Linked DNA regions of Homo sapiens. The protein of the gene in region 2 interacts with the protein of the main gene of each other region in a pairwise test. Each region holds a gene or a part of one and is shown on either strand. Other genes may lie near its edges.

What was found.
Region 1: the proteins of CCDC146 (region 2) and SYCE1L interact in a two-hybrid assay, tested with the Homo sapiens proteins (one large-scale study listed by BioGRID).
Region 3: the proteins of CCDC146 (region 2) and TNR interact in a two-hybrid assay, tested with the Homo sapiens proteins (one large-scale study listed by BioGRID).

Annotation. Positions count from the first base shown.
Region 1 is NC_000016.10:77,205,897-77,209,548, reverse strand, and holds part of SYCE1L (synaptonemal complex central element protein 1-like), read right to left. Parts: intron 3,109-3,652; coding exon 3,049-3,108; intron 1,340-3,048; coding exon 1,280-1,339; intron 1,085-1,279; coding exon 1,010-1,084; intron 453-1,009; coding exon 405-452; intron 133-404; coding exon 78-132; intron 1-77. UniProt on the Homo sapiens protein: May be involved in meiosis.
Region 2 is NC_000007.14:77,258,566-77,262,217, forward strand, and holds part of CCDC146 (coiled-coil domain-containing protein 146), read left to right. Parts: intron 1-429; coding exon 430-503; intron 504-1,443; coding exon 1,444-1,671; intron 1,672-3,555; coding exon 3,556-3,652. UniProt on the Homo sapiens protein: Essential for sperm flagellum biogenesis and male fertility.
Region 3 is NC_000001.11:175,733,546-175,737,197, forward strand, and holds part of TNR (tenascin-R isoform 1 precursor), read right to left. Parts: intron 1-3,652. UniProt on the Homo sapiens protein: Neural extracellular matrix (ECM) protein involved in interactions with different cells and matrix components.

The DNA.
Region 1 (3,652 bases), on a different chromosome or scaffold from region 2:
TTCATTTCCACAGCTCTTGCTCCCTCCTTTTTCAGCTGGGGAATGAGGTAGGGAAGAGCTGAGGCAGGGCCTCTTACCTCTGAGCCTCGCTTTCCTTCTCTTGGCAGTGCATCTGGAGGATCCTCAGTGCCTCTGTGGGGAAGGAACCAAGGGGACCCTTTGAGAGCTCTTGGGGAGTCAGGGTTGGCCAGAGGTAATAGGCCCCACATCATGTCAGGCATTGGAGGGCACTGTGAGGACTTGGGTGTTTACTCCAAGTGATGTAGCAATCCAGGAAGAGATCTGTGCAGAGAGGGAAGCACCCTGCCTTAGGTTTCAGTGGGATTCCTCTGGCTGCTCTGAGGAGCATAGACTTTTGTGGGGTGGAAGAGTAGAATAAGGAAGACACAGCAACTGGTAAATACCTTGCTTTTTGCCCAAGACCTCCTCTAGGTGCACTTTCTCTCCATTCACTGGAAAACACAATGACACTTTCTGCCTCCAGGCACCCCATTGCCATCCCCAGTGCAACTTCATATAAGGGGAAAGCCACACAGAAGGTGTAGTACAGCCCTAGGAGAGGTGAGGTATCTTCTTGCCACCCTTGCAACCATCTCCCAGAAGGACCATCCTGATCCAGCTTCTCCCCCTCTATGCCCACATTCTTTGTAAATGTTGAAGGAGTGAAGACCCTGAAGAATGTACAAGGTTTACACTGAGGAGAAAGATGGCTATAAAGAAATACACACACAGTGTCAGGTGGACATAAAGGCTCTTAAGAAACAAATCAGCCAGGGGCGTGAGAATGACCAAGAGAGGGCGGGATTCTATTCTTAGATGAGACCATCAAGATAGGCCTATCAGGGTGAAATTTGAGCTGAGAGCTGAAAGATGACATGAGACAGTGAAAGGCAATACAGATTATGTGAGCTAAGAGCATTGTAGGCCAGGGAGCAGCCTGTGCAAAGGCCCTGAGGTATGCACAGGAACATCTGCAGTGTTGATGGGTCCCTCTTTTGGCCCCACTTACAGGAGTCTAATTCCCTATGCAGGGCCTCCCAGAGACTGTGGGTCTCTCTCAGTTCCTCACTGGATTTCTTCTTTGCTGGGCCAAGAAGGGAAAAAGACACTGTATGAGTGTAGTCTCTAGCCTTGCTGTTCTCTCGCAAATATGACATTGCACAGTCATCTTCAAACAACCCTAGAGGGGCCTAGATTTTATAGATGAGGAGGTGGATTCATTATAAATCCAGTCACTTCCTGCTCGCCCCAGCTGGCCAGTCTAAGTCCCCAAGTTTACCTTGCTGAAGATCATTAATCCGGCTAATCAGGTCCTCTATCTGTGGCTCCAGGCTTCCCTCTGAAGAAAGAAAGGAAGAAAGAGTGAGCCAGAGAAGACTGGTGTCTGGCTGTCCAAGGCAGACGGAGAAGCACTGTGTCTGCTGCTATCAATTAACCGGCATATATTGAGCGCCTGCTGTGTGTTGAGCTCTGCCAGAGCCCCTTGAAGGGCTTGCATTCTGGGTTGGCAAGATGGACATTGAGCAAAGATAAATAAATCAATTCAGGTGGCAGTAACTGCTGTGAAGAGAAATAAAGTGAGGCAAAGTGTTGAAGAGCAAAAGGGTAAAAGGCATGTCTGGGGATATGCAAAGGCCCCAGATGAGAAGAAGGAAGCAGGTCCTGCAGTTCTGTGGGGGTAAAGAGTATGGAGGGGGGACCCATTCCAGGCAGAGTGCAACAAGGCAGAGGGAACAAGTGCAAATTCCCTGTAGTGTGGCAGGAGCGGGTGAGGCACGTGTCCAAAGTAACAGTGAGGGGCTGGTGTGGCTCAGGTCTAGTGAGCAAGTGGAGAGTAGCAGAAAGTAAGGTGGGGGAAGTGGGAAGTGATATCACTAGGGCCTCTTGGGCCACCGTGGAAGCCTTTAGATGTAACTCTGAGTGTGGTGTGAGCCAATGGAGACGTCCCATCTGCCCCGCCCTGTCAAAATCCAGGCAGGAAGGGTTGTCACTCTGTCAGTCTGGGCTCTGGTACTGGCCTCATCTGAGAAATGGGGAATCCCTGCTTTTACACTGTTGGTGGCAGCTTGCAAGTTTCCCAGTGACAGGGTGATCACTATCCCTTTAGGGAATCACCTCTAACTTCTCATAGCCCCTGTTTCAGTGCTCTGTACGCAGAAGACTTCCTTCTCATCCCTCTCTGGCTTCAAGGTTGCCAACACGGAACTGGGGCAAAAAGCTGTCCAACCCTTGCCAGATCTCACTGCTGACCCCTCAGACACTCTGGGGTTAATAAACTCAGACCATGGATTTTTCCAAGGTCACCAACTCCAGCTTCTGTGATTTCCAGGAGAGTGGGTGCTCTCCACGGTGCTGATTATGACTGACAGAAATCTCTGGGGGTCTTTGTTTTACTGGAAATGATCAGGTTGGATCACTGCATTTCTAGCCCTGCAATTTCTCTCCCTAATTTTACCGTAGGCAGCAGTCCCAGTGCACTTCTTCTGCAGGCAGCCACAGAATGGGAGCGGGGAGGCTGCTGCTTTTGTTTGGAATAGACTGACGTGATAGTATTTTAAGATGAGAATGGGCTGGGGGTCTCACCTCTGGCCAGCACTGCCTCAGCTCTGATGTAGATACTGGGTGCACACTGGCTCCCAGGTTTCCCGCAAAAAGCAAAGCAAGGTGCAAAACCAACTGCATTTCCATTTGTGTGTAAAAAGGGAGGACAAAAAATATACATCCATGAATGCATTTTTTAAAAATCTCTGGAAAGATACTTAAGAATTGAAAAACAATAGCTGCTTGCCCATGAGTCAGGGAAATAGATGACTGGTGTGTGGGGGGAGGGAGTAGGGATGGCGGGGGAACTGGTTTTTCCATTCCTTTAAACTTCTTGAATTTTGAACTGTGGGACTGTATTCTTGGTTCAAAGAATTAAACTGTATAAGAGGGAGAAAGTGCAATGGGATAATTTCCTGAGGTTGTGAGTTCAGGGGGCTGAATTTGTACCATGTCTTTCTGACTTGAAACCCCAGGCTGAGGCTCAGAAACAAAGAGACACATGACCTTTCTGCAGCTTTATCACCATTGCCAGCAAGTCTTCAGTCTTCAAAGACTTGGCTTGCCCTGTAGAAAGGAAAATCAAAATTACAGGACACAGCGAGAGTGAGAGGGGAGAGAGAAGGGAGGCAGGAAGTCCCAGTGGGCTCTGCAGACACCCGTGGGCTGGGGCTAAGGATGGAATGACAGACAGGTTTCCATCTGAAGCAGGGCCCCCGTCTCTTGCCCTTGAGGTTTATAGTGTGTGCTAGATAAATCAGGACCCCTAAGGGTCAGCTTCTCCCTGAGGGGTTAAAAAACACCACCACAAACATCCCCTTAATGAAACTCAGGGGTGAGAGAAGAGAATGCATGTTTGCTGATGCTGCTGTTCAAGATCATTATGAAGTTCTAACCAGAACAATAGGGCAGGAAGATTTCATATGAATTTCTTTGAAATAATAATAGCTCATAATTTATAAATTCTTAATGAACTGATAGATCTAGGTAATAGTTACTAATGGCTACTAACATCAAAAAAAGACAACTGGATATTATGAGCCTCTCTCTTTTTCTTTTTATACCCTGCAGCTCCAGCTCAAAGGATTTTTATTTTTATTTTTAATATAGA
Region 2 (3,652 bases):
TAATAAGCTTTGTATTAGGTGAACTGTAGACTAATAAAAGTGTCCTGAGAATGTAGGCTAGGCTAAGCTATGATTTCAGTAGGTTAGGTGTATTAAATGCATTTTCAACTTAAGGTAGTTTCAACTTACAACGGGTTTATTGGGACGTCACTCCATTGTATGTGGAGGAGCATCTGTACCTCCATAAAGGGAATCTGGGCAGAGGACCAACAGTATTTGCTACACTCAGTTACCTCCTCTTCAAAATGATAACAAATATAGCTCTCTTACAAGGTCACCGTGAGTATTAAATGGGATAATTAAAGCACACAGGGCAGATGGTAAGTATCTACATATTGTAGTTCCTTTCTCTCTCATATTTAATTTTCTTGTCTTAATTGCTTCTAGCCGAAGACCGCATAATTTAACATGATTTCGTTTCTTTACTAGGATGAAGTGGCCCACCATCAAACCATTCCAGTACAAATTGGAAAAGAGATAGAAAAAATAACACGCAAAAAAGTGTATGATTTAATATTTTTACTTTGAATCCCTGCCAGTCCAAGTTATGTGTGCACACTAGAACAAGAGTACTAACCATTGGACACATTAAATTACTATGATAATTTTAGAAATTTCTGCTTTGGGCCCTGTCTAGGTTGTTTATATCAAGTTCTTTAAAAGAAAGTAATGCACCAAATTTCTATCATTCATAGTATTTATGGCTTAATTATGGGTCAAGATTCTGTTGCCAATTTATAAATCATATTTTTATGGAGAAGTTCAATTGACTTTAACAGAGCGGTGCATGGGATAAATTATGCGAACTGGTTAGAATTTCATAGTCTAGAAGTATATCAGCCAGGCAGCAGCCCAAAGCCCAAATAATAGTAACTCCCCACTTTGCCACCCATTCATGTGTATAACACTCCTCAGATATTCAGAGTAGATTGGGAGGCAGAGGTCATTGAGGAAATTCTCAGTGTTTAAGGAACCAAAAAAGATAAAGATTTTAAGTGAAGATACAAAAATTCTGGAAAAATAATATAATTACTCTGGTGACTAATCTTAAGGGGAAAAATTAGGCAGGCACTAGTAACTGTTCTAAAAACTAAGCTCACCAACATCAAAGTTGAGAAACTCAGGTCAGTTTCAGGAGGCTGGTCAGGACGAGGGTTGAATCACAGGAGATGGTAGCAAATTGGGATCTGCACAGAAAGTAGGGAGGCTGGGCAAATTCCTGCCTTCCGTGGCACTCAGTGGAGATACCCTCCAAGTCCCACCCATCTGTGGTCTTTACCCACTGCTGAGATCATTGAATTTATGACTATCTCTTCTGCTGCATGGTTAGAAAGCAAGAATAGGTAAAGCCAGCATGGCCTCAAAATAAGGCAAGTGTGTGTGTGTGTGTGTGTGTGTGTGTGTGTGTGTGTGTGTGTGTGTGTGTGTGTGTATCCCCTACAGAGAAATGGAAAAGAAAAAAATTGTCTTGGAACAAGAAGTCAAAACGCTAAATGACTCCCTAAAGAAAGTTGAAAACAAGGTTAGTGCTATAGTGGATGAGAAGGAAAATGTAATAAAGGAAGTTGAAGGCAAACGAGCCTTACTTGAAATCAAAGAACGAGAACATAACCAATTGGTCAAGCTATTGGAATTAGCCAGAGAGAATGAAGCAACTTCATTAACTGAAAGGTTAGTTATATTTATGTATGTTATGTTCTGTCATCTAAATTTTTCTTCAATTTATATTTGAGAATTCAAAATCTCACTTTGGTGTTGAGTTAATAAATATTTAAAAATAATTTTAAATCAACTTTTACCCTTAATATATTATCAAATAAAGCACTTTGAAGTATTTTTTGATACTTTACTCAAATTTTCTCAATTTTCTGTTACCAGATTTTCAGGATATAATCTGTTGTATGTTGTAAGTTTCTGAATGTGCCTTTGGAAAATTTATCACTGGAGTATGTTATGTTCAGGGATTTTGCCAACAAATGAATGATACTTCTTAGGCCATCTTGACTTTTTTCTAACAGAAGCAATTTCGTGGTGTAATTCCCTAGGAGAGTTTTATGTCCTGCTTTTTTGTTTGTTTTTTGAGATGGAGTCTTGCTCTGTCGCCAGGCTGGAGTGCAGTGGCACGATCTTGGCTCACTGCAACCTCTGCCTCCCGGGTTCAAGTGATTCTCCTGCCTCAGCCTCCCGAGTAGTTGGGACTACATGTGCGCACCACCACGCCCGGCTAATTTTTTTTTTTCTTCTCATTAGAGACAGGGTATCACCATGTTGGCCAGGTGGTCTCGATCTCTTGACCTCGTGATCCACCCGCTTTGGCCTCCCAAAGTGCTGGGATTACAGGCATGAGCCACCGCGCCCAGCCTATGTCCTGCTTTTAAGTAAAATTTCAAGGAAACTGGAGGCTTCTATCTCTGCCAGTCTGTTATTTTTTTGGGGGGTGGGGGTTATAAGACTGCAGTTCTAAATGATACCAACTCACAAACCTAGTTGCCTTTGGCATTATTTACAATTTATGATTCCAACATGAGAATAGTCATGTGTGTATATACTGAGCATGCTGTCTTTTATTAAACTTTTAAGTTCAAGGTTACACATACAGGTTTGTTATAGGTAAACTTGTGTCATGGGGGGTTGTTGTACAGATTATTTTGTTATCCAAGTATTAAGCCTAGTACCTATTATTTTTCCTGATTCTCTCCCTCCTCCCATCCTCTACCCTCCAAAAGGCTCCAGTGTGTGTTGTTCTTCTCTATGTGTCCATGTATCCTCATCATTTTGCTCCCACTTATAAGTGAGAACATGTGATATTTGGTTTTCTGTCCCTGCATTGGTTTGCTAAGGATAATGACCTCCAGCTCCACCCACGTTCCTGCAAAGGATATGATCTCATTCTTTTTATTTTATTTTTTATTTTTTATTTTTTGAGACGGAGTCTCGCTCTGTCGCCCAGGCCGGACTGCGGACTGCAGTGGCGCAATCTCGGCTCACTGCAAGCTCCGCTTCCCGGGTTCACGCCATTCTCCTGCCTCAGCCTCCCGAGTAGCTGGGACTACAGGCGCCCGCCACCGCGCCCGGCTAATTTTTTGTATTTTTAGTAGAGACGGGGTTTCACCGTGTTAGCCAGGATGGTCTCGATCTCCTGACCTCATGATCCACCCACCTCGGCCTCCCAAAGTGCTGGGATTACAGGCGTGAGCCACCGCGCCCAGCCCTCATTCTTTTTTATGGCTGCATAATAGTCTGTGGCATATGTACCACATTTTCTTTATCTGGTCTACCATTGATGGGCATTTAGGTTGGTTCTATGTCTTTGCTATTGTGAATAGCACTGTGATGAGCAAATGTGTGCATGTGTCTTTAGGATATAACAGTTTATATTCCTTTGAGTATATACCCAGTAATAGGATTGCTGGGTCAAACGGTAGTTCTGTTTTTAGGTCTTTGCCAGAAGAGATTGGGAGCCAATATTCAGCATGCTGTCTTGATAAGTTTTGAAAAACATTTAGGACAGCTGATAACAAAATCATTTTCTTCTTCTTCCTTTACCTGGAACAGAGGGATCTTGGATCTCAATTTACGCAACAGTCTCATTGACAAGCAGAACTACCATGATGAACTTTCTCGTAAGCAAAGAGAGAAAGAACGAGATTTT
Region 3 (3,652 bases), on a different chromosome or scaffold from region 2:
ACAAAACACAAACGAAAAAAAGGGGTAGGGGTAGAGGGGAGGGCATGGCACACTCTTGCTTTGCATTTTAATAACTCAGGCACAGTGCCTCAGACCATTTTTAATGAGAGATTGACTGATAGTGGTCTCCTCCCCACACCCTACTCGGAACAGATCAGGGTCTGGATCAACAGCATGCTTTCCTCCCCTCCAGAACATCTCACCTGGCCCCGCTCCTGGTTGGAGGGTGGCCCACAATGAAACTTAAGCCCTTGGCATGATTTGCTGGCCTCTCGAGGGTCCAGTCTGGAAGGGCATCCCTAGTCACCCAAGACACACTTCCCAGGGAAACCATGCCCTGGTGAGCTACACTCCTGCTTCTTGCCTTGTGAGGGAGTCAGTTATGAGGACATAGCCAGGCCCACCAAGGGCAACTTCATGGAGATAAGAGCTATCTTATTTGGTCAGCCAACCTTCCCTTGAGCTCAGAGGCCTTGCAGCCAGGGATTGCTGGTGACAGTATGAGAAGGGAACAGGGCTCAAGGCCACTGCCTGTCTCAAGAATGCAATGTCTTGTTCCTGCAGCCAGCCTCAGGCCAAATAGGGCCTCCCCACTCCATGGGGAGAATGTATGTCAACATATATTGACATAGATGAGGGCAACCTTGTGCCCCTGATCTCCAGCCTCAAAATACACCCTTCCTGCCTGAAATTCCCAAAAAATGAGTTCTCTATTAATTGCAGAATCTGTATGTGCTAAGGGCTGTTGTAAGTCTTTTTGTAGAAAATGACATCTCATTTAAAAGACATGGCTATTCTGAGAGGTAGGAGCTATTTACCCCATTTGATGGGTGAGGAAACTGAGGATCAGAGAAGTCAATGGATTTCCCCACGTCTCCACAGCTAGTAAGTGGCAGAGCCAAGATTCAAACTCTTGTTGGGCAGAGTTTCATCGACTGTTTCTGCCTGGCCAGCATGGGCAGCAGGGGATGCAAGGTCAGCGGAGACACTTAGAGGGTGGAGCTGGTCAGGTGGGCTTTGCAGTCACATCCCATCTGGAGCTCTGAGGAGCAGGAACCTGGCAGCTTCCAAGGTAGATGAAAAGCTGACCTGCCTCAAATTGTTTTATTTAAAGCCAGGCTTCTGACTGTTTGAAGCCGCTTGGTTTTGGCAGTGCTTTTCCCTTTTTCTCTTTTTTCTTCCTGTTTTTAAACAGCCCTCGCAGAAAAGGGGAGTGCATCATTGCTGGGCGCCTCACTTGCAGATGCTCAAAAGACCTCTGTCCCTCCCACCCCATGGCTGGCTCCAGAGCAAGGCAGCTGGGCTGCGTGTGAGCGAGTGGGCACACGTGCTCACAGACAGCTCTCATTTGCAGAAAGACAGGAAGCCCTGTATTGATCTGCACCTGAAGTGTAGATACAGATGAAGTATTTTGCTTTTATAGTGAGTTTCACCAGCATTAAACTTCATTTATATCTCTATAAATATATACGGCTTTGAATGGGAGGCTTTACAGCTTGCCTTATAAGTTCCATCTCTCTGTGGCACAGACTGGGTCACCGTGAGGAGACAGTCCCTTTATAGGTGGCTCTGGCCTCTGCCCTTTTCAACACAGCCATTTGCAGGGCTTTCATCTGGTGTTCAGGGCCCTGTCTGTCTGCCCAGCTGGACATCTCTCCTCCCAGCACCTGGATAGACATGGGCTCTCCAGCCCTGGCGCTGCCCTCTCCTCTGTCTGCCTGTGCCCTGTCACCCCTGGCTCACAGCTGGCCAGTTGGGAGGAGGGAAAGAGGGCACCGTGACTGTCAGCTGATCTGCTCTCCACACCTGTCCCTGGGCCCAGCCACCACAGCTGACCTTGGTATTGACAAATTCACAGGGGACATCATGAGGTACTTACACAGGACAAGCTGGCAAAATCTGGCTTATTAGGGTATATGTTTTACAGAAATCCATTTAGATAAACAGGCTATCCACACAAACGCCAGCACTCAGTGGCCACAAGCCTTACAATACTTCACGAAGCAGGCAGCAGCTTCTGTCCCGATGCACTTGTGGAGATAAATTCAAAGTAATCTATATAAACTCAAGCCTTTGAAATTGCACAATGTCAAAAAATTCAAACAATTACTCTAGCCCAGCCAGGAGGTGGTTGTTAGATGTTCTTCTTATGGAAAACAAAATTATAAAGGAAGGGAAAATGTTTCATAAATAAAATTCAGAATGGTAGAAGAACCTGGAGGGAGGGGAAGGTAGAAAAAAGGAAACCCAAGTGTTCATGGTCTCTGGCTGACTGCAGAATAGGGCTCGGAAACCCTCCTTAAGGCTCAAATTAATTTCAGTCTAGTACAATTTCAAGGTAATTAATTGGGAAGAGGCATCTTTCAGGTATTTAAAAATATCAGATTGGCTCTTGGTACTAAAAGAGTAGGAGAAAAAATAGCCAACACATGCTTCTAAAATCAAGGTGATGTAAAACAAGGGCCAACCCAACCCATTAGCACTTGAGGAGCATATAAAATTCGGGTCAACCCAATAATTGCTAGCTTGTTGAAACACCAAGTACCCCAAGCTGCACCCAGTCCCCAGGCCATATTAAATAGCAAGTGGCACAATCTGGGCTAGAGGACATGTTCCATGACAGACACTGTCCCAGGGACTTTGTACTCATGCCTCATTTAATTCTCACAAAAAAAACTTAAGGAAGATGTGGTGGGCCGGGCGTGGTGGCTCACGCCTGTAATCCCAGCACTTTGGGAGGCCAAGGCGGGTGGATCACGAGGTCAGGATATCGAGACCATCCTGGCTAACATGGTGAAACCTCATCTCTACTAAAAATACAAAAAATTAGTGGGGCGTGGTGGCCGGTGCCTGTAGTCCCAGCTACTTGGGAGGCTGAGGCAAGAGAATGGCGTGAACCCGGGAGGCAGAGTTTGCAGTGAGCCGAGATTGCGCCACTGCACTCCAGCCTGGACGACAGAACAAGACTCTATCTCAAAAAAAAAAAGATGTGATGATCTCTATAGGCTTTTCGGGGGTGAGGGAGGGTGAGGGAAAGAGGGGATGTGTAGGAATTTGAAGTCCAGTTTCCTGTTAATAACTCCCCAGGTCTTGCTTCTTGATGCCTTTGCCCCATGGGTTCTGTGTACATGTGGCCCAGAGCAGGGATGACTAAGATACAAGCAGCAGAGAGAGTGGAAGAACTTAGTCTCTGTCCAGGTGCTTCTGCTTATAATCCCAATACTTTGGGAGGCCAAGGTGGGAGGATCACTTAAAGCCAGGAATTCAAGACCAGCCTGGGCAATATATCAAGACCTCCATCTCTACAAAAAAAAAAGATCAAAAAATTAGCTGGGCATGTAGGTACATGCCTGTAGTCCCAGATCCTCAGGGGGCTGAGGTGGAGGGATGGCTTGAGTCCAGGAGGTAGAGTCTATGGTGAGCCATGATCACACCACTGCACTCCAGCCTGAGTAACAGAGTGAGATCCCATCTCAAAAACAAAGCAAAGCAAAAAGAAAAACAAAAATAACAACAACAACAACACAAAGTAGGCTCTGTTCCAAACAGATTTGGTTGAAAACCAGCCCTGCCACCTACTAGCTGTGTGGCCTTGGGCAAGCACGTTAGCCTCTCTGAACCCCTCAAGAGCTTGGTTTTATAAAATGTGAGC